Regions from separate parts of the Homo sapiens genome. Here regions 2, 3, 4, 5 and 6 are each linked to region 1. The links come from fine-mapping of genetic effects on gene expression. A gene starts in region 1. Each other region holds a variant in brackets. All regions are shown on one strand. Distances are between the middles of the regions. Region 1 holds the start of BTBD2 (BTB domain containing 2). Region 2 overlaps CSNK1G2 (casein kinase 1 gamma 2). Region 3 holds the start of LOC124904610 (a long non-coding RNA gene). Region 4 overlaps CSNK1G2 (casein kinase 1 gamma 2). Region 5 overlaps CSNK1G2 (casein kinase 1 gamma 2). Region 6 overlaps SCAMP4 (secretory carrier membrane protein 4).

Region 1 (4,600 bases):
GGCTGAGGTGGGGGTCCGGGGCTGGAGGGGCTGTGGATGGTAGTCTATGATCTGGACTGCAGGGCGGGCAGGGGGTATCCCTGGAGGGGAGCAGCATGGTTTGAAGGTCTCTGATCCAGATCATGTGCTGAGCCTGGGGGTCTCCGGTGGGGGTCACTGGGTCTGGAGGCAGCAGGGAGGACGCAGGGAGCAAGGCCTAGGGGTCTTGGCGCACAGGGGTGCGGGTGGGAGTGGCAGGGTCCCTGGATGGTGGGGGAAGAGGGAGGGGTCTTGTGGTCATGGGTGGGGGTGGAGGAAATAGCACGACCCCTGAAGGGAGGGGTCCTGGAGTTCAGGAGTCATAGGTTGGGGGTTACGGACTGAGGTGGTGAGGACTGGGGACGGGGGGTCTCAGGTGAGAGCGGAGAAGTCTCTCCATCCTGGGATGCAGGGGTGACACACTTGAGTGTAGTGGGGTCCCAGGGGGCCCCGGGAGTAGAGAGTGGAAGGGCAGTGGGCAGGGGTGAAGGACCTGGGGAAGGAGGGGTCCTGGAGAGTCCCTGGGTACAGGGACGGAGGGGTCACCAGTAGGGGTCCCAGGGGGAGAGGGGCGGCAGGCAAGGGTGCAGGGCCTGGGGATGGAGGGGTCCTGAGGATCCCCGGGTATAGGGATGGAGGGGTGTGGCATGTGGGGTCATGGGTCCTAGAAACAGTGGGTTGGGGTCCTGGGAATGGAGGAGCAGATAGGGGTACACGTCCCAGGGTTGGAGGGTCACAGGAGTCCCAGGGGTGGTGGGTGGGGGTGCAGGGCCAGGGCATGGAGGGGACCCAGGGATGCAGGCCAGGTGGGGTCCAGGGATGGAGGGGCCTGGGGTGTAGGCAGGGGTTCCAGCCGGAGGTGGAGGGGCCCAGGGATCTGGGGGCAGAGGTGTCTGGGGACCTGGGGTGCAGGGAGGGGTGAGGTCCAGGGATGGAGCGTCCTGGGGATGGAAGAATGGAGGGTCCTAGGGTGCAGGCGGGGGGTGGAGGGCCCTGAGGATGGGGTATTCAGGGTTCTGGGGTGCGGGCTGGGTGGGGTTTGAGGATGGAGGGGCCCAGGGGCTCCAAGTGCAGGCCGAGTTGGAGGGTCCCAGGAACGGAGGGTACCGGAGTGCAGGCTGGGTGGGTCCAGGGACGGAGGAGAGCAGGGGTCCCAGGGGTACAGGGCCTGGGATCCCGGGGAACAGGCTGGGGGCGCAAGCCAGAGGTGGAGGATCCAGGGGGGCCTGGGGATGGAGGGGTGCAGAGGCCCAGAGTGCAGGCCTGGTGGGGTCTGGGGACAGAGAGGTGCAGAGGCAGGGACAGAGGGGTGCAGAGCCCAGGGAACTGGGTGGAGTCTAGGGATGGAAGGGTGCAGGCCCCGGGGTGCAGGCCGGGTCGGTTTCAGGACCGGAGGGGTGCAGGGGTCCCAGGGACAGAGGGGTGCAGGGCCTCAGGTGCAGGCCCCGGGGTGCAGGCCGAGTTGGGTTCGGAGCCTGAGGATGCAGGGGTGCAGGGGTCCCGGGGACAGAGGGGTGCAGGGCTCGGGGATGGAGGGGTGCGGGGGTCTCGGGGACAGAGGGGTGCAGGGCCTCAGGTGCAGGGCCCGGGCAGCAGGCTGGGTGGGTCGGGGCCAGGGCTGGCGGGGTCGGGGCGCCCACCTGTGCGCGGGGATGCGCTGCGAGCTGAGCCCCTTGCCCACCAGGAAGTGCACGTCGCACAGCACCTCGTTGTTGAAGAGGAAGGCGAAGCGCTCCTGCACGGTGGGCTTGCTGGCCTGCCAGTTGTACGCGGCCTCGCGCTGCAGCGCCGCCGCCCCCGGGCCCGCCGCCTCCTCCGCCCGCTCCGCGCCCGCGGCCTGCGCGTCTGTCCCGGGGCCCGGCGGGGCGGGCGGCGTCGGCCCAGGGGCGGCGGCGGCGGCGGCGGCGGCGGCGGCGGCGGCGGCCGCGTTGCCGGGGGCCGGGGTGGCGGCGGCGTTGGCGCTGGGCCCGGGACTGCCCCCCGTGCCCGGGCCGACCCCGACCCCCGGCGGGCACGACGCACGCCCGCCGCTCCCACCCGCCGCCATTTTGTGGCTGCGGCGTGGGCGGGGGAGGGGAGGAGGGAAGGAGGGAGGGGAGGAGGGAAGGAGGGAGGGGAAAGGAGGAGAGTAGGGGGAGGAGGGGGAGGAGGGAGGGGAGGGGAAAAGAGGAGGGAGGGGAAAGGAGGGGAGGAGGGAGGGGAGGGGAAGCGGGAAGGAGGGAGGGGAGGAGAGGGAGGGGAAAGGAGGGGGAAGGAGGGAGGGGAGGAGAGGGAGGGGAAAGGAGGGGGAAGGAGGGAGGGGAGGAGAGGGAGGGGAAAGGAGGGGGAAGGAGGGAGGGGAGGAGAGGGAGGGGAAAGGAGGGGGAAGGAGGGAGGGGAGGAGAGGGAGGGGAAAGGAGGGGAGGTGGGAGGGGAGGAGGGAGGGGAGAAGGGAGGTGAATGGGGGAGGCTGTTGCAGGGGAGGGGACGGGGAGGAGAGGGAAGAGTAGGAGGGGCCTGTAGAGGGGAGGAGCTGGTGGAAGACCTCTTGCTCCACTCCCTAAGCATCCTGACCTGAAGCCCAGACTCCAGACCGAGGTCCAGAATTTGGGGTCCAGGCACCAGGCCCCAGACTCCAGACCGGGAATCCTAAACCCTGGAGCACAGACCTCAGTCCGGGATCCCAGGCCTCAGACCTTGAATCCTAGATCCCAGACTCTGAACCCCAGACTTCAGACTCCGGATTCCAGATCCCATACCTCAGACCCGGAACCCCCAACCCAAAGACCAAGCGCAAACTCCAGACCCCAGACCCCGGACCCAGGTGGCGGGCCTGCTCCGTGGCGCAGGCTCCGCTGTACAGAGACATAGCCTGAGGCCGGGAAGCTGCGGATGAGCGAGCAGGATGCAGGCCACGTGCACTGACACTCAGCAGACGCCCAGCACCCTCTCCAGGCCAGGTGTGGGGGGTGGTCAGTGTGGACGGAGCTGGGACTCCCCCAAAACGCTTACTACATACATAATGTCAAGGTAGACAAATGCCACAAAGATTGAGGAACCAGGTCGGGCGCAGTGGCTCACGCCTGTAATCCCAGCACTTCAGGAGGCCAAGGCGGGGGGTGCATCACCTAAGGTCAAGAGTTGGAGACCAGCCTGGGCAACATGGCAAAACCCTGTCTCTACAAAAAATACAAAAATTAGCCAGGCGCGGTGGCTCACGTCTGTAATCCCAGCACTTTGGGAGGCCGAGGCGGGCGGATCACCAGGTCGGGAGATCGAGACCATCCTGGTGAAACCCCATCATGGTGAAACCCCATCTCTACTAAAAATACGAAAATTAGCCAGGCTTGGTGGCGGGTGCCTGTAATCCCAGCTACTCGGGAGGCTGAGGCAGGAGAATCACTTGAACCTGGGAGGCGGAGGTTGCAGTGAGCCGAGACCGCGCCATTGCACTCCAGCCTGAACAACAAGAACAAAACTCCGTCTCAAACAAACAAACAAACAAACAAAACAAAACAAAAAAAAAACTAGGCGTGGTGGTACGCACCTGTTGTCCCAGCTACTCAGAAGGCTGAGACGGAAGCATCACTTGAGCCTGGAAGGTTGAGCTTTTGATGAGCTATGACTCCACCACTGCCCTCCAGCCTGGGCAACAGAGCAAGATCCTGTCTCGAAAAAAAAAAAAAACAAAGAAGAAAAAGAAAATAGGGTATTAAAAAAACCCAAGTGATAATGCTATTTTCAGTTCTCCAGAGTGGGTGGTTGAGGTAGTTACAATTTTTTTTTCTTTTTTCTTTTTTCTTTTTAGAGTCTCCCTCTATTGCCCAGGCTGGGGTGCAGTGATGGCGATCTTGGCTCACTGCAATCTCAGCCTCCTGGTTCAAGCAATTCTCCCGCCTCAGCCTCCTGAGTAGCTGGGGTTACAGGTACCCGCCACCACGCCTGGCTAAGGCTAATTTTTTTTTGTTTGTTTGTTTTGTTTTTGAGACAGTCTCGTTCTGTCGCCCAGGCTGGAGTGCAGTGGCGCGATCTTGGCTCACTGTAAGCTCCGCCTCCCAGATTCACGCCATTCTCCTGCCTCAGCCTCCCGAGTAGCTGGAACTACAGGCGCCTGCCACCATGCCTGGCTAATTTTATATGTGTGTGTGTGTATGTATATACATATATATATATATATATATATTTTTTTTTTTTTTTTTTTTTTTTTTTGAGACAGTCTTGCTCTGTCGCCCAGGCTGGAGTGCAGTGGCACGATCTCAGCTCACCACAACCTCCGCCTCCCGGATTCAAGCGATTCTCCTGCCTCAGCCTCCTGAGTAGCTGGGATTACATGCACCACCACGCCCGGCTAATTTTGTATTTTTAGTAGAGACGGGGTTTCTCCATGTTGGTCAGGCTGGTCTCGAACTCCCGACCTCAGGTGATCCGCCTGCCTTGGCCTCCCCAAGTGCTGGGATTACAGGCGGGAGCCATCACAGCCGGCCTCTAAATGTCAACTTTCTTATCTCTCATCTCATACATTTGCAAAGTGACATCTTTCCAGCCAAATCCTAAAGAGGACATCTGTGCAGTCCCTTCTAGATGAAGGTGCAGAACAGGCATA
Region 2 (4,600 bases), 46 kb before region 1:
CCGACCACCCTTCAGTTCTGCAGGTGGGGCTCCTCCCTCCTCCCCAGGCTGCCCCCGACCACCCTTCAGTTCTGCAGGTGGGGGCTCCTCCCTCCTCCCCAGGCTGCCCCCACCACCCTTCAGTTCTGCAGGTGGGGCTCCTCCCTCCTCCCTCCTCCCCAGGCTGCCCCCGACCACCCTTCAGTTCTGCAGGTGGGGCTCCTCCCCAGGCTGTCCCTGACCACCCTTCAGTTCTGCAGGTGGGGCTCCTCCCTCCTCCCTCCTCCCCAGGCTGCCCCAGACCACCCTTCAGTTCTGCAGGTGGGGCTCCTCCCTCCTCCCCAGGCTGCCCCCGACCACCCTTCAGTTCTGCAGGTGGGGGCTCCTCCCTCCTCCCCAGGCTGCCCCTGACCACCCTTCAGTTCTGCAGGTGGGGCTCCTCCCTCCTCCCTCCTCCCCAGGCTGTCCCGAGGCTCCTTGCTGGGGACCGTCCTGCCTCCCGTCGGGGCCTGCGCTGAGACTGGGCTCCATGCCAGCCGGGGCTGGCTGGCCCCCTCGCTCCAGAGAGCGACCTGCACAGAGTCCCCTCAGCCATGAGCCCCTGTCCAGACACGGCGTTTCTCTGTGGGTGGCAACAGGCTCTGGGGCCCTCAGCTCTGGGCTCGGGAGCATTTAAGGTGGTGCAGACTCAGCGAGGGGCTGTGGGCTGGGGTCCCACCATCCCGGGAGCAGGGACTGCGTGTTCCTTCTCAGGACCAGAGGCTTCTGTCTTTTCCCCTGGGGTAGAAGTTTGCTGCCTGCCCCGTGCCCAGCCTTGCTTAGGTGGCTGTTGGCTCCGCTGGTCCCTCAAGCCCCGCCATTCCCTCCTCAGCTCCGCTCTGCACCGAAGGGGATGGGTCCGACCCAGCCTGGCATCATCACAGCCTCGAGTGGCGTCCAGCCTGCCCCGCTCCACCAGTGGCTGCTGGAGAAGAACCCGAGCCTGGGTCAGGCCCTGGGGGCTCCTGCATCAGTGCCCGGCTCTCCGGGGCCTCCTGCCCTCCGGCCCACTCTCCCCGCTCTCAGCATCAACCAGTCGCCATGGGCAGGGGCAGCTCGGTGGCTCCTGTGTCCCTGCCTCGGGCCTGCCTGCTGTCATCTGCCTCCCTCCCTCTTTCCCAGAGCGGCCCTGGGCCTGGATACGGGGACTGTTGTGTGGCCCCTCTGTGTCTGGGGGTGCGACTGCTCCCCTGGCTTCAGGATCCTCAGGGCTTCTACCCGGGATTGGCAGTCATGCTCTCCTGGCAGTACACTCTCCCACCTGTGCCACCCACCCACCCACCCACCCATCCCGCTTTACAGAAAGCCCCCTGAGCCCTACCCTGTTCGTCCCCAGGCAGCCACGCCGAGATCTCTGGCCTCTGATGTCATGTGATGTGTGCTTCCCAGCTGGGTTCCGGGCAGGGACGGTGCTCATCATGCCCCGGCCTTCAGAGCTCCTTCCAGCCCAGCAGTCTCCTGGCTGTGTCCTCTGTGGCCTCCGCCCCGTGTCCTCAGTGGCCCCGCGGGGGCCTTGCCGGTGCTCACCTGTGCCTCTGTTTCTCTGCAGCTGTGAGCCGTGAGCTTTGAGGCGGTGGGATGTGTCAGCAGAATGTCTCCTGCCCCCGAGAGCGACCCCGAGGCCACTGAGAAGAGCAGCGCGGCCTGGCCGGCCCGAACGCCTGCGTCTCAGTAGCTGGGAGCCACGGGCCCACGCCCGCCCACCGGCCGCAGTGATGTTCTAGCCACAGAGGAGCCAAGACCTCAGGTTTCCAGAGACTTGGGATTTGCACGGCAGCAGAGTCACCGTGGAGAGGCCAGGGTATCACAAACTTATGGATTTTGACAAGAAAGGAGGGAAAGGGGAGACGGAGGAGGGCCGGAGAATGTCCAAGGCCGGCGGGGGCCGGAGCAGCCACGGCATCCGGAGCTCGGGGACCAGCTCGGGGGTCCTGATGGTGGGCCCCAACTTCCGCGTCGGCAAGAAGATCGGCTGCGGCAACTTCGGGGAGCTCCGCCTAGGTGAGGCCCTGCTCGGTGGTAGGTGGGGTCGGGAGGCTGCTGGCAGGGCCGCCCCGAGTCAC[C/T]GGAGCCTCTGGTGGGGCCGCCCGGGGTCACTGGAGCCTCTGGCGGGGCCGCCCCATGTCACTGGCAGGTGCGTTGAATCATCAGTCCGTCGTGGTGCGAGTGCCACTTCCCTTCGAGGAGGTTCTGTGGGGAGAGTGGGTTTCTGGCCCTGTCACCTTTTCGGGAAACAGTTCTGTTGGGAGGCAGGTGGCCCAGAGCAGGCCAGGCCACGCCGCAAGGAGCCCGATGTTAAGTTGTGAATGACTTTCATGGCCCATGTGCACGCTGGGCGAAGCCCCGGCTTTAACGGCAGGTGCCTGCCCGGCACTCAGCTCGTGGGAGGTCTTGGCCAGCCCGGAGCTGGCGTCAGGTGGCTGGAGTGACTGTTCTGTGGTGATGATACTGCTGTGTGCCACTCCCAGCTTCACCATGTAAAAGGCCGCACCTGGCCCACCTGGCTCCGTCCCTTCTGCTCACACCAACCTCTCCCGGGTCGGGGTCTGATTGCCCGGGCAGGCGTGAGGAGCAGGGCCGAGGACTGAGCCTCTCATTGGCCAGGGGTGCCTTCCCTGGGGTGGGGGTGCCTGAAGATGACCATCAGGCCTGGGGGAGCTCTGAGCACCTTTGGGGCCGTTCCCAGTCTGTGATTAGCTGGGCCAGGGAGCTGAATCATCCCCGGAAATGTGGTTAAATTTATTGCTGGTGCTGCCGGAGCTCCTGCGGGAGGGCATTTGGCGTCTGTTGCTGGGGTTGTCCGGGGAACCCAGGTGCACCCCCAGTCAGTGTCTGTCGTGGTGGGAATCAGGGTCCCTGGGAAAGAGCGCAGGATGGGCAGGTCCGAGAGGCCACGGCAGTGGATCGGCCTCACGTGGGCACCCATGGCAGGCGGTGCCCATGGCACCCATGGCAGGCACTCAGCCCGATGAGGTTGTCAGATGAGGGAAACAGGCCCACGCAGTGGTCATGATGTGGCTGCATCTTCAAGAGCGGCCGCCCAGGGGCGCAGGAGCATGGGCTGTGGCGGCCTGGACCCCAGGCATGTTTTGTGGCCCTGCTTCCCACCTCCTGCCTCACTTTACCCACCTGTTAAATGAGGATGAATGGTAGTTGCCACTCGTGGGCAGAAGGGTTCAGCAGGCAGTTATGCGGCAGAAGTGTGTGTCCTATGAGTCAAGCAGCTTCTCCCAGGCGAGGGCAGCTGTTGGGGTCACTGTTGGCTGTTTCTGTGTTCCCATTGGTTGCACCCAGGGCCCCAGGAGGCCGGGGTTTGAGACCCCACCCGAACCAGATCCCACCCCAGCCCTTGGGGAGGCTGCTGGGATTCCACCTCTGCGCAGAGGCTGGGCTTGGGCCACGAAGCCTCACTGCCGGTCCGACGGCCTGTGGCTCAGGAGGCCCGGGCTCCGTTTCTCAGCCAAGAGACTGAGCTTTTCCCAACAGGAGCTGTGGCCTCCCAACCCCGTGTGTGTGTGCACGCTCAGACACACGTGCAGACACATGCAGACATGTACACACGTGCCCACAAATGCACATGTGCACACTAAAGCACACGCACACAGGCGCACACAGCCACAACCACGCATACACAGGCACACAGGCTCATCTGCACACACATGCCTGGCACAGCCCCGTGACCTGCAGCCTGCGGGGTATGGCTTTTGGGAACCCAGATGGCTATGTGGGTCCTGTCCTTGGGCGGCGGTTGCAGGCTGCTGAATAGTGCAGGTCCCTGTAGGCAGATGAGAGTGACGTGGGTGATGCCAGCTTTTTTTTTTTTTTTTTTTTTGAGACGGAGTCTCGCTCGGTCACCCAGGCTGGAGTGCAGTGGCGCAATCTCGGCTCACTGCAAGCTCCGCGTCCCGGGTTCACGCCATTCTCCTGCCTCAGCCTCCCGAGTAGCTGGGACTACAGGCGCCCGCCACCACACCCGGCTAATATTTTGTATTTTTAGTAGAGATGGGGTTTCACTGTGTTAGCCAGGATGGTCTTGATCTCCTGACCTTGTGATCCACCCACCTCGGCCTCCCAAAGTGCTGGGATTACAGGCGTGAGCCACTGCGCCCGGCCTGGTGACGCCAGCTTTTACTGAGTTGCGGTTTGCGCTCTCTTCAGCCTGGCATTTTGGGCGCTGTGTGCTTCGCGGGCAGCCGCACATCGTGGTTTCTCAGGGGTGCCGGGAGGCCGTCCATCGGAGGACACACCAGCCCTTCTTCATCTGCTCCCAGCGCAGGGACGCTTGGCTGTTTCTGGATTTGGGCCCTTCTGAATAGAACTAACTGCCCAAATAGAACTGAATAGCACTGGGCTCCTCGAGCACTCCACGTCCCCAGCACTCAGGACTGTTGGTGGCTTTGATGTTGAGCCTGTTGTGGACTCCGGTTGTTGAATGTTGTTCCGTTGTCTAGAATGTTCTAGAATGTGTCGTTTTTTCTGTTTTTAAGGTTTTTATCTTTGATTTAAAATATTGACTATGCTCTCCTTAGATGAGGCTTTCTGTTTTTATCCTGCTTGGGATCCACTGACTTCTTGGATCTCTGTG
Region 3 (4,600 bases), 28 kb before region 1:
GGCACCAGGTGGGCTAGGGCAACAGTATGTACAGGCGAGCAGTGCTCCTGGACCCGGTCGGGGCCGGCTGGGGCCCCATTCTGCGGCAGGGGAGCTCTGGGGCACAGGGTCTGAGTCCCATCTTGGGCTGCAGGGACCGCGAGGGCCGTCCAGGGAGGCTGGACAGCGGGGGCCTTTATCTGGGCCCATCAGGTGGATGAGAACGGACACTGCAAACCGCTCACCACCTGGGCCAGGGCTAGGCCTATCCGGCAGGGGCCGTCCCCACACTGAATCCTGCGTGCGCAGAACTCAAGCCGGCATCCAGGCAGTGGGAACGCCCCGCAGGCTGGGCTTGGGTGGCCTCGGGCACGTGACAGGTGGGGCCCGTGTCCTGATAAACGGACAGGAACAAAAGGAACGCAAGGTCTGGGACCCACGGCTCTGGGAGCAGCGCCACCCAGGCTGGCTCCTAGCAGAGAAATGGGAATCGCAAATGCATTGCAATGTGCAGTGAAGAGACGCGAGGGACGCCCGCGGCGCACCGCCGGCAGACGACGTGGGCAGGCGCCCTGAGCTGCGGGTCCGTGGGCCCTGGCCCAGGCCGGCACAGCCCTGTCCCTAGTCCTGAGGGATTGTCTCCACAGGGCCTGGCCACTGGCCTGGCCACCTCCCCGGCTGCCCTGATCCAGCAGCCACACTCGTGGTGAACACAGGGCAACCCCGTCCTGATGCTGAGAAAGGTGGCATGGAGTGGACAGACGGCCTGGGGGACACTGGGCCTGGCACCGCGTGGTGGGGGGGCCCCAGCAGCAGATGATGGCCTGGGGCTGCGGCTATCCCCACGGAGGGAGGGCGGTGTCGGTGTCGGGCAGCCTAGGTGTAGAAGATGACCTCGGGGATCTGGCCGTCCTCCACGGATGTGCCATTGTTGTTCCCGGCCGCGTAGCAAAAGGTGAAGCAGGTCTTGGCGCCCGTGGTGGGCGACTCGTGTGTCACCTTGCGCAGGCCTTTGGTGCCGTAGTGGGAGTCTGGGCCCTGTAGGGAATAGGGGTACAGTGAGGTCAAGGACCACCAGGCTGGGATGCCCCAGGTGTGGACAGGGCAAGGCCCCGACTGGGCCAGGGTGGCTGCCTCTGGAGAGTGTGTGCTGTGCCCCGGTGGCTTCAGGATGGGCCAGAGACTCCCACGGAGGGACCCCTGTCCCCGGCGGCGCACCTTGAGCGTGGCACAGGCCGTGTAGTTGACGTTGGGCAGCACCTCCACCGGCTCCTTGAACATGACGCGGAAGGTGCTGGCTGAGCCGTCGCAGCTGAAGCCCGTGTCGTTCTGGCCCAAGACGGTGTTGCTATCGGTGTGAATAATCTGCGGGGAGGTGGGAAGTGGGAGGCTCAGGCCTGGGGAGGGCCAACGGGGACCCCTCGAGGCCCAGCCCACCTGCCCAGGGTGGGGGCAGCACAGGGACCAGGGCCGGGGGTTCAGCCAGGGTTCCATGGAGGTGGAGAGAGGACATGGGCCTGAGTGGGGCCTGGGGATGAGGCTTGGGGCTGGTACCTGGATGTTCACTTGGTAGTCGGTGGGCCCGTGGATGGATCCATACAGCCCAAATCCCACCACGAAGATGCGCTTGTTGACTGAGAACCTGCCGTGGCAGATGACAGGCAGCAGCGTGGATACCCAGGGATAGCCTAAGGTGAGCTGGGGCGAGCCCACCCCCATGCCCGGTCCCCTCCATCGTCCCTGAGTCCTCCACCCCCATGCCCGGCGGCCCCCCCGCCGTCTTCATCATCCCTGAGTTCTCCACCCCCATGCCCGGCCCCCCATCTCCGTCATCCCCGAGTCCTCCACCCCCATGTCCGGACCCCCCCGCCTGCACCCCAAGCCCCACCTGATGCGGTCACTGGTCCCGCTGTAGCCCCAGCGACTCTCCACCTGCTGGAAGCGGTTGATGCTGCACTCCTTCCCACGCAGGCAGCAGCGGGGCCGGTCAATGAACTCCACTCGTGGCTTGGGGTTGACGGTGAAGTGCAGGAAGAGGCTGACCACCTCGCGGTCCACCAGGATGCCCGACTGTGCGGGACCTGCAGCACAGGGAGGGTGTGGGGGAGGGCCGGGCTGCACCCCAGGATCCCGAGTGCCTGGGAGGACACGCTCCTTCCCCCTAAGATGTCTGCGTCGGACTTTCAAGGTGCAGGGACCTGGGCAGCCCCTCCCCGGGGGACTAGCCACCAGCCATGGCCCCTGCTGCCTGGGCTTTTAGGGAGAGGTCCCAGGGCACAGACCAGAGGCCGACAGATACGCTCACTCAGGGGCGATGCCTCAGGGTCTGACAGATGCACTCACTCAGGGGTGATGTCTCAGGGTCTGGCCCCACTGTAGGGACCACCCGTCACTTCACTGTGGGTGGGGGCGGGGGGCTCCACTGCCTGTTCTCTCAGGGCCATTGGCTGGGAGGGGTCACTGTGGCTCCCTGCTAGGCCTGTACCCCCCAGGCTGCAGCCCTGGCTTCTAGAAGCAGTCTGGGGGTTCCTCTCCA[C/T]GGTGGGCCCTAGGCAGACACCTTCTCAAGCGCTTACACCCCCAGGGGTGATGGCTAGCGGACCCCAGGCAGACTCCAAGAGCCAGGCTCTTAATCCCGGTGCAGAGATGTCACAGGCAGAGGGACTGTGCATGGGATGTGAAGGGGCTCTGGGTAGGGAGGGGAGGCCAGGAGGGGCAGAATTGGGGGTCCACCATCCACCCCCAGGAGTGCCAGGACACAGCACCCTCTGCTCTAATGAGAGCAGCCCTGCCTGCCTGAGACCTAATCACTCATCAACCAAGGTGGGCTCAACTCCGCATCGCTCAGCTGCAAGCCAGCCCAGTGCAGACACAGTTTAATAACTGGTGAGAAACAGACCATTATGGGTTAAGTGAATCAGGAAGACTGAGTATCAAAACTCAATAAACAATGTTAACAATTTTTTTTTTTTTTGAGACGGAGTTTCGCTCTTGTCCCCCAGGCTAGAGTGCAGGACGGAGTTTCGCTCTTGTCCCCCAGGCTAGAGTGCAGTGGCGTAATCTCGGCTCACCGCAACATCCGTCTCCAGGGTTCAAGCAATTCTCCTGCCTCAGCCTCCAGCATAGCTGGGTTTACAGGCATGCGCCACCATGCCCAGCTAATCTTGTATTTTTAGTAGAGACGGGGTTTCACCCTGTTGGTCAGGCTGGTCTCAAACTCCTGACCTCAAGTGATTCCCCCCATCTTGGGCCTCCCAAAGTGCTGGGATTACAGGAGTGAGTGACCCAGCCTGGCCAACAATTGTATATATTTTTTTATTTTAAATGGAGTTTCACTCTTGTTGCCCAGGCTGGAGTGCAGTGGCGCGATCTCGGCTCATCACAACCTCCACCTCCTGGGTTCAAGTGATTCTCCTGCCTCAGCCTCCCGGGTAGCTGGGATTACAGGCATGAGCCACCACACCCAGCTGATCAACAGTTGTATTTTTAAGAAGTATGTATCTAGCCAGGCTCGGTGGCCCATGTCCATAATCCCAGCACTTTGTGAGGCCGAGATGGGAGGATGGCTGGAGCCCAGTTCATGACCAGCCCAGGTGACATAGCAAGACCCTGTCCCCACAAAAAAATACAAATATAAGCCTTGTGTGGTGGTGGCACCTGTGATCCCAGCTACTCCGGAGTCTGAAGCAGGAGGATCACTTGAGCCCAGGAGGTCGAGGCTGCAGTGAGCTGTGATTGTACCACCGCACTCAGCCTGGGCGACAGAGACCCTCTTGCTAAATCTGGCGACCTTCAGCTAAGCAAGAGCGGGGGCCGCGTGGACCTGGGGAAGGCCAGACGGCGAGTGTGCACCAGCCCCAGGGCTCTGTCCCAGCCCCTTCTGGAAAGTTCCAGGCCTGTTTTGCTCCAGAGCTGGATGGCGTCAGGCAGTGAGCAGCCACGAGGGCAGGAGGCATCGTTAGCGCTGCCCCTTCACGTCACCCTGGAACCCAGGCCCTGCAGCAGGGGACCCCAAGGCCCACTCGGGCGCATGACAGCCACCCCGGCCATGTCAGAGCCCTCCTGAGCTCGTCACAGACACTGGTACCTGCACCAGCAGGTAGCACAAGGGCGCGAGACGGGGACTCCCTTCCCTCCTGGGAAGATGCCACCAAAACAGCTGGACAGACACGAGAGGCGGGGTCTGGCAGTGTGCACGGTGGGGACAGAGCCGGGCCGGGGCTAACAGATGGCCCTGTGGACGCGTCCTCACAAGCCAGGTTTCTTCCTATCTGTATATGCCAGGCATCTGCCAGGCTTTCCGCAGTGAACTCGGGGGCACTATCCTCGGTACCCAGATGCCCACCTGTGTGCCACTCCCCTCCCAAACCAGCCCCTGAGCCCGAGCTCTGTTACCTGCAGCGAACTCCTCGATGGTCATGAGCGGGAAGCGAATGAGGCCCAGGGCCTTGCCCAGAACCTTCCGCCTGTTCTCTGGCGTCACCTGCAGCTGCTGCCGCTGACACTCGGCCTCGGACCAGCGGACAACGGCATTGAACAGCCGCACCTCACGGATGCCCAGTGTGTCGCGCTCCAGGACAGCCACCAGCGTGTCTGTGGGGTGGAGGAAGGGGCTGCGTGAACA
Region 4 (4,600 bases), 33 kb before region 1:
CTCCTCAGATGCTGCTGTTTCTTCAAGAGGAGAAAGAGAAAATCGCTGCAGCGACACAAGTGACCCTGGGCGCGTGCAGCCCCCTGAATCTTCTCCGTGCAGCCCCTTGGGGCGCGACCTTGTGCGAGGCCCTCGGGGCCCACCCACAGCGGCCCAGGGCCAGACCCTGGCTGGAAGCCAGAACGCAGACTGCAGGGGCCGCGCCTGGCTCAGGCGGCCCCACCCCCGGGACGTGGGGTCACTTCCTTCATGTAAGACTTTGGCCGAAATTTCTACACCTGTGTCTAGTCCTCCCCTCCAAGAGCATTAACTATTTAAAACAAGGAAAAGAGGAAAAAAAAAACAGAGGCCCGCCCTACCCCACTCCTGCCCCTCCGTTTCTTTGCTGAAGTGAGTAGTGTGATCCTGGAGGCCCCCCGGCCTGGCCCCGCCCCGCCAGCCGCCCCCGTTAGCGTCATAAAGTCCAGCTTGTCTCCCTCGATCCAAAGGCCGTTTTCTCGAGGGGAGGGCAGGCCCGGCCTGGAGGGGTGCTGTGGAGCTGTCTTGCCCAGGCCCTCCTGGGAGGGGGACAGGCATTGTTGCCAGGGGTGAGGCCGTGCCCCAGGCCTCCCCGAAACCAAAGGGGAAGGCAGGGGTGGGGCCGTGGCTGAAGCCGGCTCCCCAACCAAAATGCTGCACCAAAGCTCGGGCGCCGCGGGCACGGCTGCTGCAGTCTCTTCCCAGCCTGGCCCTGGCAAGGGGCGGGTGGGCGCTGCCAGGCGGGTGCTTCTCGACGCACTTGCTCCCGGAGGCTGCGCCCCGGCGCCTGGAACCCGAGGTGGGAGGACCGGTTGGTGTCACCCTGCTCGGCCCTCAGCCCTGCCGCGTGGGGCGCGTGGGCACGGAGCTTCCTGCCTCTCTGCTCCGACACCCGGCAAGCAGCCGGAGACAAAACGCCTTAAAGCCCCCGGCCCAGCCCTGCAGGTATATTGCAGGGGCCTGGGGGCGGCCCTGGACTGGCGGGCGGTTCCCCAGTGGGGTGCCCTGGAGGCTGCCGGGCAGAGTGGAGCAGCTTGGGGCCGTGCCCAGGGCGGTGGCTGTGAGTCTAGTTTTTGCTTTACCAAGTGTACAGAAATGGCATTTACGTTTCTCTGATGCTCCCTTGAAGCCATAGAATTTAGGGGCTTTTTTAAAAAAATAAAAGAAAAATGAAACCAAACCCAAGTGTAGAGGGATTTGTCTGGGCTTTCCACGAAGCTTGACCTGGAACGGGCGTTGCTTCCATCCCCATCCTGCCTGTCCGGGACGAGTCCGGAGCGGCTGGCGGCCTCCGGTAACAGAAACCGACTGATGAGGCGGAAGGTAAGGAAGATGGAAGCAGAGGGCAGAGCTGGGCTCTGTCTGGGGAGAGGGCAGGAGACGAGTGTTCACGTACCATGGAAAGGGGAAGTCACACACATGCGACTTGGCCCCGGGGGTCCCGTTCCCCGACACTACACAAATATACCTGAAAGCCTCAGCGACGGGGCCCAGGCAGGATGGTCCTGGCTGCTCTGACGGCGGAAGGCCTCCTTGACTCCCTCTGTTCACGCAGCAGGGCAGAAAACATCTCCACGGGGGCCACGACACTGTGAAGGGAATCAGCAGTAGCTCCCAGAAGAACAGCGGAAACTGCAGGCAGGTGAAGACCTTGGCAGCACTAGCCCCGGCTCCGCCCCGTGCCTTCTCCCCAGACAACACCCCATACCCGGCAGCAAGGGTGGAAGACCAGTACCACCGTAATATGTTGTGACAAAGCAGAAATAATGCACCTGTAAGAGTCAGATGGCAAGAGGGAAATGGAATGAGCTCATCGATGGTTTTCCCGGCAGTAGCTTGGGGATAAGGACTACTTGTCATGTGCTTTATATATTTACCCACATGTTAACCTTTTCTGATGCTCTTCATTTCTTTCTGCTGATCAGAAATTACATCTGGGACCGGGCAGGGTAGCTCACTCCTGTAATCCCAGCACTTTGGGAGGCCGAGGCTGGCGGATCACGAGGTCAGGAGTGCGAGACCATCCTGGCTAACATGGTGAAACCCTGTCTCTACTAAAAATACAAAAAATTAGCCGGGCGCCTGTAGTCCTAGCTACTGGGGAGGCTGAGGCAGGAGAATAGCGTGAACCCGGGAGGCGGAGCTTGCAGTGAGCCCAGATCTCGCCACCGCACTCCAGCCCGGGCGACAGAATCCCAAAACTACCTCTGGGATAATTTTCAGCCTGAAGAACTTCAATATTTCTTACAGTGCAGCTTTTTTTTTTTTTTTTTTGAGACAGGGCCTGGCCTAGGCTGGCGTGCAGTTGCACAGTCATAGCTCCCTGGAGCCTCCACCTCTTGGGCTCAAGCGATCCTCCCACCTCAGCCTCCCAAGTATCTGGGACCATAGACGTGCACCACCACACTCAGCTAATTGTTTTGTTCTGTTTTGTTTTTAGGTAGAGATAGGGTTGCCTGTCTGGCTCTGTTGTCCAGGCACTTGCGGAGGACGAGGTGGGAAAGTGACCCTGGGATGAGAGGC[G/A]TGAGCCACCACGCCGGGCCGAGTGCAGCTTTGTCGGTAACAAATTACAAATTAGCATTTGTTCCCTGAAAAAAATATTTATTTCACCTTTCTTAATAAGGATGTTTTTGCTGGTAGTGGCATTCCAGGTTGACAAAGTGTTTGTTTGGGACAGAGTCTCGCTGTCACCCAGGCTGGAGTGCATTGGCGTGGTCTCGGCTCACTGCAGCCTCCACCTCCCGGGTTCAAGCAGTTCTCCTGCCTCAGCCTCCCGAGTAGCTGGGATTACAAGCGTGTGCCACCACACCTGGATAATGTTTGTATTTTTAGTAGAGTCGGGGTTTCACCATGTTGGCCAGGCTGGTCTTGAACTCCTGACCTCAAGTGATCCACCCACCTCGGCCTCCCAAAGTGCTGGGATGACAGGCATGAGCCAGCATGCTCCACTGACAAAGTTTTTAAAACGCGGCGGCTCACGCCTGCAATCCCAGCACTTTGGGAGGCCGAGGCTGGTGGATCACAAGGTCAGGAGATCGAGACCATCCTGGCCAACACGGTGAGACCCCATCTCTACTAAAAATACAAAAAATTAGCCGGGCGTGGCGGCAGGCACCTATAGGCCCAGCTCCTCGGGAGGCTGAGGCAGGAGAATGGCGTGAACCCGGGAGGCGGAGCTTGCAGTGAGCCGAGATTGCACCACTGCACTCCAGCCTGGGTGACAGAGAGAGACTCTGTCTCAAAAAAAAAAAAAAAAAAAAAAAAAAAAAAATTGTGGGTCAACGTCTTTCATTCATTTTGGAAAATTCTTGGCTGTCATATAGCTTGAGTCTCATTCTCTCTCTCTCCTTCTGGGACTCCACTTACACATACGTTCAACCCTTTGGCTGTGTCACGTATCTCGATCTGTTCTGTTTTTCCATTGTTTTTACTCACTGTGCTTCACCTTGCATGTTTGTTTGTTTGTTTTTTGAGACAGAGTCTTGCTGTGTTGCCCAGGCTGGAGTGCAGTGGCGAGATCTCGGCTCACTGGCAAGCTCCACCTCCCGGGTTCACGCCATTCTCCTGCCTCAGCCTCCCAAGTAGCTGGGACCACAGGCACCTGTCACCACACCTGGCTAATTTTTGTAGTTTTTTTTAGTAGAGACGGGGTTTCATCATGTTAGCCAGGATGGTCTTGATCTCCTGACCTCGTGATCTGCCTGCCTCAGCCTCCCAAAGTGCTGGGATTACAGGCATGAGCCACCATACCTGGCTTTTTTTTTTTTTTTTTTTTTTTTTGAGACAGTCTTGCTCTGTCTCCCTGGGCTGGAGTGCAGTGGCACAATCGTGGCTTACTGCAACCTCTGCCTCCCAGGTTCAAGTGATTCTCCTGCCTCAGCCTCCCAAGTAGCTGGGATTACAGATGCACGCCACCACGCCTCGCTAATTTTTGTATTTTTAGTGGAGACGGGTTTCGCCATGTTGGCCAGGCTGGTCTCGAACTCCTGACCTCAGATGATCCACCTGCCTCGGCCTCCCAAAGTGCTGGGATTGCAGGCATGAGCCACCACGCCCAGCCTGTCATTTTTAAATGGATGCTGGACGTTGTAAATGACAGATGGTAGAAGCTGGTGCTGATGTTTCTTCACAGGGCTGTGTTTTCTTTTGGCAGGGTCCAGCGTAACAGCAGCCCAGTGAGACCCTACCAGGGTTTTGTTTTGGAGTGATGACGGCTTCCGTTCTGTCCTCCCCACAGGAGTGTTGCCCTAGCTCCTGGTGGGTGGCCCTTCTGGTGTCTTCATTAGAAGCCCAAGGTGTTTCCTTTTAATATGTATTTTTTTAGAGATGGGGTCTTGCTGTGTTGCCCAGGCTGGTCTCAAACTCCTGGCCCCTAGCAGTTCTGCCTCAGCCTGCCAAAGTGCTGGGATTGCAGGTGTGAGCCAGCACGCCCGGCCCCCAGGGTGTTCGACAAGGCCCCCTACCCCGCCAGCCTCCATCTCCATTGCCTGCTCCCAGCACTGCGCACTGTGGAGATCTGCTCAGCCTTCAGCCTCCTGGCAACTGTTTGCGGCTGGCTTTTTTTTTTTTAGACGGAGTCTTG
Region 5 (4,600 bases), 57 kb before region 1:
AGTGGTTGGTGTTGACCCTCCACAGAGGGGCTGGGTGGGGTGTGTCCAGTCCCATCTGGGTAGACTGAGTGTTGGGGATGGGAGAGTGTTTAAGGAGGTGGCGGTTACAGACTCCAGCATCGGGACACGGGGCCGTGGGTCATACCCACATCCGTGGGGGCTGTGAGACAGCCGTCCAGAAGCTTCTGTCTCCGGGCCAGGAGGACACCCCAGAGAGCCCCAGGAGGCTCGTTCCGGAATTTAGGGCTCAGCCTCGATGAACCTGGCCAGGCGGCGGTTGATGGGTTAATTCAGTTAATCACACATCACTCAGGGTTTCTCAGCAGAAGGAACTGACCAAGCCAATGGCTCACCTGGAAGAGAGAAGGAGGGAGGAGGAGGGGATTCTGCAGAGGGAAGGCTGGTGGTGGCGCCCCCCTTCGACGGTCGTGCCCTGATGCTGCGTGGCTTAAACGGTGCCACCCGGAGATTGGTGGGCGGGATTGGGCCTCTGGGGTCCCCGGCTGTGGAGAGGGCAAGGCAGGGGCGGCTAGAAAGAAAAGCAACCTGGACGCAGGCCCCACCTCCCTCCAGGCAGCCCCACAGGCCCGAGGGCCACCGTGTCAGGAGGGATAGCCTACACGGAGAGCAGGCCAGTGGCCCTGTGCCCAGGAGGGTGCCTTGCCCAGCCTGGAGGCCCGCAAGGATGAGAAGCAGTGTGTGCCCGGGAGGTCACGTGGGCACCACAGACGAAAGTGGAGCCGGGGGAGAGATGTCCCGGGATGCACCAGGCGCTCGTGCAAACCAAGTGCTGAGCAGAGAGCAGCCTGGGAGAGAAGGGGGCTGCCCCGAGCGGCTTGGGTGGCCGGGCCTGTGGGAGACCTTGGGTTTGCTGTTAGGAGGGACAGTGAGCGCAGGCACCTCTCTCTCCACTTCATGTTTGTCCTCACTGAGGGAGCCGAGCAGATGCCTTTGCCCCTGCAGGTCCCCCATGTCCCCTCGCCCGGGGCGCGCTCCACAGGCTAGGCCACTTTCACAGCTCACCACACAGGCAGAGACTGGAGGGTGCGCAGGACCCCGGGTGACTGCAGACGTGGGCACAGAGGGGCCTCTGAGGGCGTCTGGCGGCATTTGAGCAGCTGCCAGATCTCCCCTGGAAACACTGGGGTGTGTGCTCGGTGGGTGCCGTGTGTGGGGGGTATGTGCTCGGCGGGCGCCGTGTTTGTGGGGTGGGAGCTAGGCGGGCGCCGTTTATGTGGGGTGGGCGCTCGGCGGGCACTGTGTGTGTGGCACGGCCACTGCTTAGGGCCCCCTGGAGCTGCGGGGCACACGGCAGAGCCAGCCTCATGTCACCACGTGCTTCCCCCGTGTGCAGGGAGGGGTTGGAGGTGTGCGCTTGTCTTGTCCGGAAGCCGGGTGTTGGGACGCGTCCTGACGACGGCACTGCCCACATCCTAATGGGACACCTGAGGGACATCGGTGGCTGAGTAAGGGGCCCCTCCCGAGCAGGTCTGGAGGCGTTGGAAGCACAGCGCAGCCTCATGGGGCACCTGCCTGCTCTGCCTGGAATTGAGGGGCGATTGGGACTCCCACTGCCCCCACCAAAGCCTGTGCCCCTGATGTCTGTCCAGAGCACGGCTTCCTTCTCGGTGGTTCCCAGAGGCCGCTGGGCCTCGCTTCGTCCTTTTTGGGCAGCGAGTGTGTATGTTAGGGGAACAGGAGCCCGGCAGGGCCGTCTTGCAGGGCTCAGCAGTGGGGGCCGTGGGGTTGGTGCACCAGGGCAGGAGAGCTGCCCGGCTCCTGCTAGGTGTCTAGAGGGCCTCAGCTCTCCCAGGCACTGTCCCCTGTCCCCCCATCTCCCCTGTCCCCCCCATCTCCCCATCCCCCCGTCCAGGGCCGCAGCAGCTCAGCTCTCCCAGGCACTGTCCCCTGTCCCTCCGTCCCCCCGTCCAGGGCTGCAGCAGCTCAGCTCTCCCAGGTACTGTCCCCCGTCCCCCTGTCCCCCCGTCCCCCCGTCCAGGGCCGCAGCAGCTCAGCTCTCCTAGGCACTGTCCCCCGTCCCCTCGTCCCCCCATCCAGGGCTGCAGCAGCTCAGCTCTCTCAGGCACTGTCCCCCCTCCCCTCGTCCCCCCATCCAGGGCCGCAGCAGCTCAGCTCTCCCAGGCACTGTCCCCCGTCCCCCTGTCCCCCCATCCAGGGCCGCAGCAGCCCAGCTCTCCCAGGCACTGTCCTCCGTTACCCCGTCCAGGCACTCTCCCCCCGTCCCCCATCCCCCGTCCAGGCACTGTCCCCCCTCCCCCCGTCCCCCCCACCCCCGTCCAGGGCCACAGCAGCC[G/A]GTATTGAGTGTGGGTATGAGCTTTGGCTCTGGGTCCTGAGCGTCCCTTCCCCAAATTCCCCATGTGGCTTCCCAGTCTGCATCTCCATCTGCTCCCAGGGTGCGAGTTGGTTTTTGTATTAATAACTGAGGTGTGACACTCGGGCTGTACCCGCTAGCTGTGTAACTCATGCAGCTCAGTGCCTTTAGCTCATCATGAGGCTGTGTCTCTGTCTGTGCCATCTAATAGAGGATATTTTCATCCTCATGGCGAGAAGGGATGGATTTGTTTTCCTCGTGAAGTCGGTGACGTTTGCTTTTCAGGTTTGGTTGGTGGCCTCCAGTCTCTTGTCCTCAACGAGGGTTTTGGCAGCTCCCTCTCAGTGGCCTGTGAGTGTCCCCACTCCCTTGTCTGGGAAAGGGCTGGAGCTCTGGGGCTCACAGAGAGGGTGGGTGTGATGTCTTTTTCCTGACGTGGCATCGGGGTGTCTTACCTGCCCGGACACCTGCCTGCGCAGGGTAGCACAGACCCTACAGGCTGCGGCTGAGCCCCCAGCACCCGCCCCACCTTTAATGCTCGGCCCCCAGCACCCGCCCCACCTTTAGTACCACCCTGAGTCCCCCAGCACCTGTGCCACCTTTAGTGCCACCGTGGGTCCCCCAGCACCCGTCCCACCTTTAGTGCCACCCTGAGTCCCCCAGCACCCGTGCCACCTTTAGTGCCACCGTGGGTCCCCCAGCACCCGCCCCACCTTTAGTGCCACCGTGGGTCCCCCAGCACCCGTCCCACCTTTAGTGCCACCCTGAGTCCTCCAGCACCTGTGCCACCTTTAGTGCCACCGTGGGTCCCCCAGCACCCGTCCCACCTTTAGTGCCACCCTGGGTCCCCCAGCACCCGCCCCACCTTTAGTACCACCCTGAGTCCCCCAGCACCTGTGCCACCTTTAGTGCCACCGTGGGTCCCCCAGCACCCGCCCCACCTTTAGTGCCACCCTGGGTCCCCACATCCCTGGCTACACATTGTGGCTCCCACAACCCCGTTTGGGTTCACGGTCCTCCTGCAGGACTCTCGGAACTGGGGAGTGAGAGTTTGTTCCCTGCTGTTGTAAAGGGCATAACCTGGGGGAAGCCAGGCAGGCAGAAACCCCCACCCACGTCCAGGGCCCCATGTAGGGTCCGGAGCTTCCCTGCCCTCCCTGGTGCCAGTCCTGACCCTACCACAGCCGAATGTCTGCGTCAGCACAGGGGCGTGTAGGAAGAAAAGGCGTCCTGCTTAGGAGATAGGTACATCCGGGACCTGGGGCCTTCTCGCCCTCAGTCCACAGGGAAGGTCCCCCGGATGGCGCCTGCCCCTTCCCCCTCCCTACCCGGCTTCTGCACGCAGTCCCCTGAGATGGCCCACACGTCCTGCCGCTTTCTGGCAGGGGAGAGCTGAGGCCTGTGTCTTCAGGATGCTGCCTCTCGGGCAGCCTCCAGCCCTCGTCGAGAAAGGCAGGCAGTGTGGCGCGAGCAGGCTGGCCTCAGGCGGGGCCTCTGGGCAGTGTCCCCTCGGGATGTTTGCCGTGCTGGATCTCACACCCGGCTCTGACACGCTGCCGTGTCCCCCGTGTGCCTGCGCCTGGGGTCTCCGTGTGTGTGTCTGTGTACACGCATGTGGTTTTGCTTTCTTGTGGGCTGGAAAATCTAATAGTAGTCAGGGCGTGGTGGTTGACACCTATAATCCCAGCACTTTGGGAGGCTAAGGTGGGTGGATCACTTGAAGTCGGGAGTTTGAGACCAGCCTGGCCAACGTGGCAAAACCTTGTCTCTACCAGAAATATCAAAAATTAACCGGGCATGGTGGCACATGCCTCTAATCACAGCTACCTGGGAGGCCGAGGTAGGACAATCACTTGAACCCGGGAGGCGGAGGCTGCGGTGAGCCGAGATCGCACCACTACACTCCAGCCTGGGCGACAGAGCGAGACTCTGTCTCAAAACAAAACAAAATGCAGGCACGGACGTTTCAGCCCCCTCTTCCTGTGGATGCTGAGAGGGTTTCCAGAAGAAGGAGAATGTCCCCGTGCTGGTGGCTCATCCAGGTGTGGGCCGGTGTGCGGCGGGGCGTGGGCAGAGGAGAGGCTTCGGGCTCCGGTTTCCTCTCCTGTGGATGCGTCGCCCCCGCATGGTGGTCCTCTGCGGAAGTCCCCCTGTCCGTCCCGTTGGCAGCCGCAGTGGAAAGACGGATGGACGGGCTGTGACAGGGACAGCCCAGTGTGACCCCAGCCCTGGCCGTCGCGGTTGTGGCATTCTCGCTGTCAGGGGGCT
Region 6 (4,600 bases), 92 kb before region 1:
AGACCATGCAGCCTGTGATGCTGTGGAGGCTCCAAGCAGGCGAACACAGGACAGGCCAGCATCTTGCAGGGACGCGGCGGGGGGTACCGCGTGTGCGTGCATATCACGCCCCGTGCATGTGTGTGCATAAGCTCCCCGGACACATCCGGGGGTGTGGGTCCTGCGGGCTGCCTGTGCACCAGGGAGGGGAGTCAGCAGGAGAGAGACTGTACGTCGTGCCTGCCTTTAAGTTCCCTGAATTTTAAACCCTGTGGTTTCATCACCTGTTAAGACAAAAATCTCAAAATGACTGTTTTCTGCCTCCTGGGTCTCAAAGGCAGGTGCAATGCCCAGAGGCTGGTCCTGCACAGAGGGACCCAGGGCGTGCTGGCCTTCCCAGTGTCCCACTGGTGGCTGATCTAAGCAGTGCTTTCCCTCGTTTTTTTATTTTGAGACAGAATCTTGCTCTGTCCCCCAGGCTGGAGAGCAACGGCACGATCTCGGCTCACTGCAGCCTCCCGCTTCAGCCTCCCAGATAGCTGGGATTACAGGCATGCGCCCTCATGCCTGGCTAATTTTTGTATTTTTAGTAGAGACGGGGTTTCACCTTGTTGGTCAGGCTGGTCTCCAGTTCCTGGCCTCAAGTGATCCGCCCGCCTCGGCCTCCCAAAGTGCTGGGACGACAGGCGTAAGCCTCTGCGCCCGGCCTCCTCATTGTTTCTAATGGTCCCTCAGTGCCCACCGGGTGATGGTGGCAGATTTTCCATCCGCATTGCTCCCGGACATGCGGATGTAGGTTTCAGCAGTTCCCATCATTAGACACAGTTGCCGTAGGCTGGGTTCTTAGTAGCAGGCTCAGTGGGGCCTTTGAGTCTTTCCATGGCTGGTGCCCGCCGGACTCACTGAGGGAAACTAATGGGGAAGCACTGGTCTCCATTCCCTGCACGCACAGCCCACTGCTGCGATGGTGAAGGGATAAGGTTGTGTTCACGCGTCGAAGTTTGTGTCCACTGCACACGCGGCTCACTGCTGCGATGGTGGAGGGATAAGGTCGTATTCACGCGTTGAAGTTGGTGCCTCTCAGTATCGCTTTATGTTTGTTGGCCACTTGGTCGTCCTTGTATGAGCTGTCCACTCCTTGTTGATTGGCCAGAGCTCTTTACATGGGGAGGACCATGGGCCGGACCATGGGCCCTCATCCAGCAGGTGTGCAGGCACCCACGCACTCTCTTGTCCCTTGCAGCGGCTGGCTGTCGGCAATTGGATTCTTCCAGTACAGCCCGGGCGCTGCCGTGGTCATGCTGCTTCCAGCCATCATGTTCTCCGTGTCGGCTGCCATGATGGCCATCGCGATCATGAAGGTGAGTCCTCGGCTTTGTGACGTCCAGCCCTTACCCCTTCTCCATGAACCTCGTCACCCAACTGTCCCAGGTGGGTGAACGTCGAGGAGCCGGGCCCTCTCCCCACGGTGTCACGCAGGCCGCACTTCATCCCCAGCAGTGAGCTGGGATGACAGCAGGAGGCACTGTCACCAGGGACACTCCCAGGGACCCAGCGCCTGGGTTCCTATGGGGCCAGTCCTGTGGCCCCCTGGGCCGGGAGTCCAGACTCCAGAGGGAAGCAGGGGTTGTGTGTAAACCGCAGTGTTTGCAGGAACAGCTGAGGCCCTGGAGCTGTCCTGTCAGTGAGGGTGGGGCCCCTTGCAGGTTCCCGGTCACAGTTTCCATCTGAAGATAGCGGAAGTGTTGAGCTGGGCTCATAACAGAAACTTTCAGTTACAGCAAAATGCTTTTTTTTTTTTTTTTTTTTTTAGACAGAGTCTCGCTCTGTCACCCAGGCTGGAGTGTAGTGGTGCGATCTCTGCTCACTGCAAGCTCCGCCTCTGGGGTTCATGCCATTCTCCTGCCTCAGCCTCCCGAGTAGCTGGGACTACAGGCGCCCGCTACCGCACCTGGCTAATTATTTTGTTTTTGTATTTTTGGTAGAGACAGGTTTTCACCGTGTTAGCCAGGATGGTCTCAATCTCCTGACCTCGTGATCCTCCCGCCTCGGCCTCCCGAAGTGCTGGGATGACAGGCGTGAGCCACCGTGCCCGGCCTATTTTTTATATTGTAGTAGAGACAGGGTTTCACCATGTTGTTTGGACTGGTCTCGAACTCCAGAGCTCAGACAGTCTGTCTGCCTCGGCCTCCCGAAGTGCTGGGATGACAGGCGTGAGTCCCCGTGCCCGGCCGCCATGCTCATTTTCTGTCTTCTGCCTCCCTGTCCTCTGTCCTTGCAGGTGCACAGGATCTACCGAGGGGCTGGCGGAAGCTTCCAGAAGGCACAGACGGAGTGGAACACGGGCACTTGGCGGAACCCACCGTCGAGGGAGGCCCAGTACAACAACTTCTCAGGCAACAGCCTGCCCGAGTACCCCACTGTGCCCAGCTACCCGGGCAGTGGCCAGTGGCCTTAGAGGGAGCCTGCCCTGCCCCCACCGCCCACCACCTCCTCCCCTTCATTCCTGCTGCTACCCCTGGTCCCGAGGGCTGGGAGTACCTGGGGCCCCATCCCCCCAGCTGGGATGGTGGAAGCCGGTGGTGGCCACGGACCGCCCCCCTCCTGCCAGGGCCACAGAACCCGTGTTCATCTCATCCGAGAGCGGAGTTCCTCACAAGCACTCCCCAGCAGCCCTTGGCCTCTGCCGTCCACAGGACGCCCTCTTGCTCCCGGAAACGTGTGGTCACCCGCCGTCCACTGCACGGCTGGTACGGCCTTGTCTTCAGGTCTCGAGGCCTGACTCCGGGGGACAGGTGGCAGCAGGTCGGCCGCCCTCCCGTCCTCCCAGAGCTGCTGGCGCTGAGGTCAGAGCGGGTCTGATGGGGAGCTCCGTCTCACCGGCCACCCGCCGTCACCATGGCAGATGCCCTTGGCC[G/A]GAACTAATAAGAGGCGTCGGGGCCAGCTTCCGGTCCCCTGCAGTGATAGAGGGCTTGGTGCCTAGCTGAGTCCTCGCTGTCCCCGCCATCCCCTGATCTGTGCGGCTCCAGCCTCGCCCCCTCCCCACGTGCACCATACCTGGGGAGTTCCTGGTCCAGGGTATCCTGGGGCCACCCTCCCTGCCTCCAAAACAGGGATCCCTGGCAGGCTGTCTTTCCACGCCCCTGAGTTCAGAGTCGGGGACCCAGGCCAGGTCGGGAGCACAGCCGCTCCCCAAACCCAGCAAACCGGCAGAGAGCCGGTTTCCCAGCAGCCGGAGCCCTGCAGGAGAGGCCTTTGTGTTTTGTTTTGTTTTGTTTTTTCTCTTTTGAGACAAGAGTTTCACTCTGTCGCCCAGGCTGGAGTGCAGTGGTGTGATCTCGGCTCACTGCAACCTCTGCCTCCCGTGTTCAAGCAGTTCTCCTGCCTCAGCCTCCCAAATAGCTGGGATTACAGTTGCCTGCCACCACGCCCAGCTAATTTTTATATTTTTAGTACAGATGGGGTTTCACCATGTTGGCCAGGCTGGTCTCGAACTCCTGACCTCAAGTGATCCACCCGCCTTGGCCTCCCAAAGTGCTGGGATAATAGGTGTCAGCCACCGCGCCCAGCCTGGAGTGGCCTTTTATGAGAGGGGACCCGTCAAATCTGTGCCTTATGGAGGGGTCCGGCAGCGGCCACAATTGTCTTGTCCCCTCACCCCCCAACTCCCCCTGGAACACCTCTCCCAGGCAAGACATTTTCACAGCACCATTCACAACGGTTGGGCCAAAAAGAAACTTTTCCTTCATCATTTCCTGCACTCGCTGACCACAACTTTGGACACCCCAGGCTGCCACCCCTCCCCACCCGTTCACCCCCAGGATGCTGTTGCTGTAGGACGCCTGCTGCCCTGGAGCCCTCCCCAGGATGTGAGCCAGTCCCCTCGCTGGTACGGAATGCCGCTGGGTGCCCGGAGGCGGCCATGGTGTCTCGATGGACGGCAGCCAGGATGGAGCACCCATGGGTCTCACGGCCATGCTTCAGGGTCTTCAGGTCCTGCCCCCGGCCAGTCTGCCAAGAGGCACCCCCTTCCCCAGCCTCTCGCCTGCACTGATGCAGACAAAATCTCACCTGGCAGGCCCAACCCCCCCCCACCCCTCCCCCGCCGTGTGTGGCCCCTCGCCGCATCGTTGGGGTTTTGTTATGTGAAAATATCCTGGAAATAAATACATGTTTCTGCACTTAGAGCCAGGGACCTGCCGCGTTTGTGCTGTGAGCATGTGTGGTTCCCCCAGGCCGTCTTCTCCCTTGGGAGACCCCTCAGCATATGGCCTCTGGCAGGATGCCCCCCTGCAGCGCCTCCTCCCACCCAGGCCCCGGGTGCCCTGTAGCCAGGTGTGCCCAGGGCTGACCCTGCCATCCTGGCCAACGTGGTGAAACCCGGCCTCTACTAAAAATACAAAAATTAGCCGGGCGCGGTGGCGGGTGCCTGTAGTTCTAGCTACTCAGGAGGCTGAGGCAGGAGAATTGCTTGAACCCGGGAGGCGGAGGTTGCCGTGAACCCAGATCGCGCCACTGCACTCCCCACCGGCTCAAAAAAAAAGGAAACTTGCACAGATGGAAAGCCAGTGTCACTGGCCCTACGTAAAAAGCAAACATCGGCCAGACGCAGTGGCTCACG

The links. PIP is the estimated chance that this variant, and not a neighbour inherited with it, causes the effect.
Region 2: its variant is the best candidate, but not a certain one, in a credible set for the expression of BTBD2 in thyroid (GTEx, PIP 0.66).
Region 3: its variant is the best candidate, but not a certain one, in a credible set for the expression of BTBD2 in sun-exposed skin (GTEx, PIP 0.67).
Region 4: its variant is the best candidate, but not a certain one, in a credible set for the expression of BTBD2 in prefrontal cortex (CommonMind, PIP 0.74).
Region 5: its variant is the best candidate, but not a certain one, in a credible set for the expression of BTBD2 in stomach (GTEx, PIP 0.53).
Region 6: its variant is the best candidate, but not a certain one, in a credible set for the expression of BTBD2 in whole blood (TOPMed, PIP 0.86).

What each region holds. Positions count from the first base shown.
Region 1 is chr19:2,013,639-2,018,238 of GRCh38, forward strand. BTBD2 (BTB domain containing 2) reads right to left here and starts at 2,076. Exons shown (of 9, transcript NM_017797.4): 1 at 1,659-2,076. The coding sequence starts at 2,065. It overlaps LOC107985278 (a long non-coding RNA gene), which reads right to left. Exons shown (of 4, transcript XR_001753845.2): 3 at 3,545-3,662; 4 at 2,707-3,456. RefSeq lists silencers at 1,673-1,722, 1,733-1,882.
Region 2 is chr19:1,967,941-1,972,540 of GRCh38, forward strand. It overlaps CSNK1G2 (casein kinase 1 gamma 2), which reads left to right. Exons shown (of 12, transcript NM_001319.7): 2 at 1,568-2,019. The coding sequence starts at 1,833. Among named protein-coding and RNA genes, the nearest start is that of CSNK1G2-AS1, 16 kb to the left of the region's middle. The variant C/T (reference allele first, on the strand shown) is at 2,082.
Region 3 is chr19:1,985,633-1,990,232 of GRCh38, forward strand. It overlaps BTBD2 (BTB domain containing 2), which reads right to left. Exons shown (of 9, transcript NM_017797.4): 5 at 4,372-4,569; 6 at 1,868-2,060; 7 at 1,534-1,621; 8 at 1,198-1,344; 9 at 1-1,017. The coding sequence ends at 856. It overlaps LOC124904610 (a long non-coding RNA gene), which reads left to right and starts at 2,060. Exons shown (of 2, transcript XR_007067086.1): 1 at 2,060-2,862; 2 at 3,326-4,600. The variant C/T (reference allele first, on the strand shown) is at 2,516.
Region 4 is chr19:1,980,141-1,984,740 of GRCh38, forward strand. CSNK1G2 (casein kinase 1 gamma 2) reads left to right here. Exons shown (of 12, transcript NM_001319.7): 12 at 9-1,198. The coding sequence ends at 63. Among named protein-coding and RNA genes, the nearest start is that of CSNK1G2-AS1, 28 kb to the left of the region's middle. RefSeq lists an enhancer at 1-124. The variant G/A (reference allele first, on the strand shown) is at 2,542.
Region 5 is chr19:1,956,621-1,961,220 of GRCh38, forward strand. All of the region lies in intron 1 of CSNK1G2 (casein kinase 1 gamma 2), which reads left to right. Among named protein-coding and RNA genes, the nearest start is that of CSNK1G2-AS1, 4.4 kb to the left of the region's middle. The variant G/A (reference allele first, on the strand shown) is at 2,315.
Region 6 is chr19:1,921,848-1,926,447 of GRCh38, forward strand. It overlaps SCAMP4 (secretory carrier membrane protein 4), which reads left to right. Exons shown (of 7, transcript NM_079834.4): 6 at 1,223-1,340; 7 at 2,261-4,166. The coding sequence ends at 2,437. Among named protein-coding and RNA genes, the nearest start is that of CSNK1G2, 17 kb to the right of the region's middle. The variant G/A (reference allele first, on the strand shown) is at 2,897.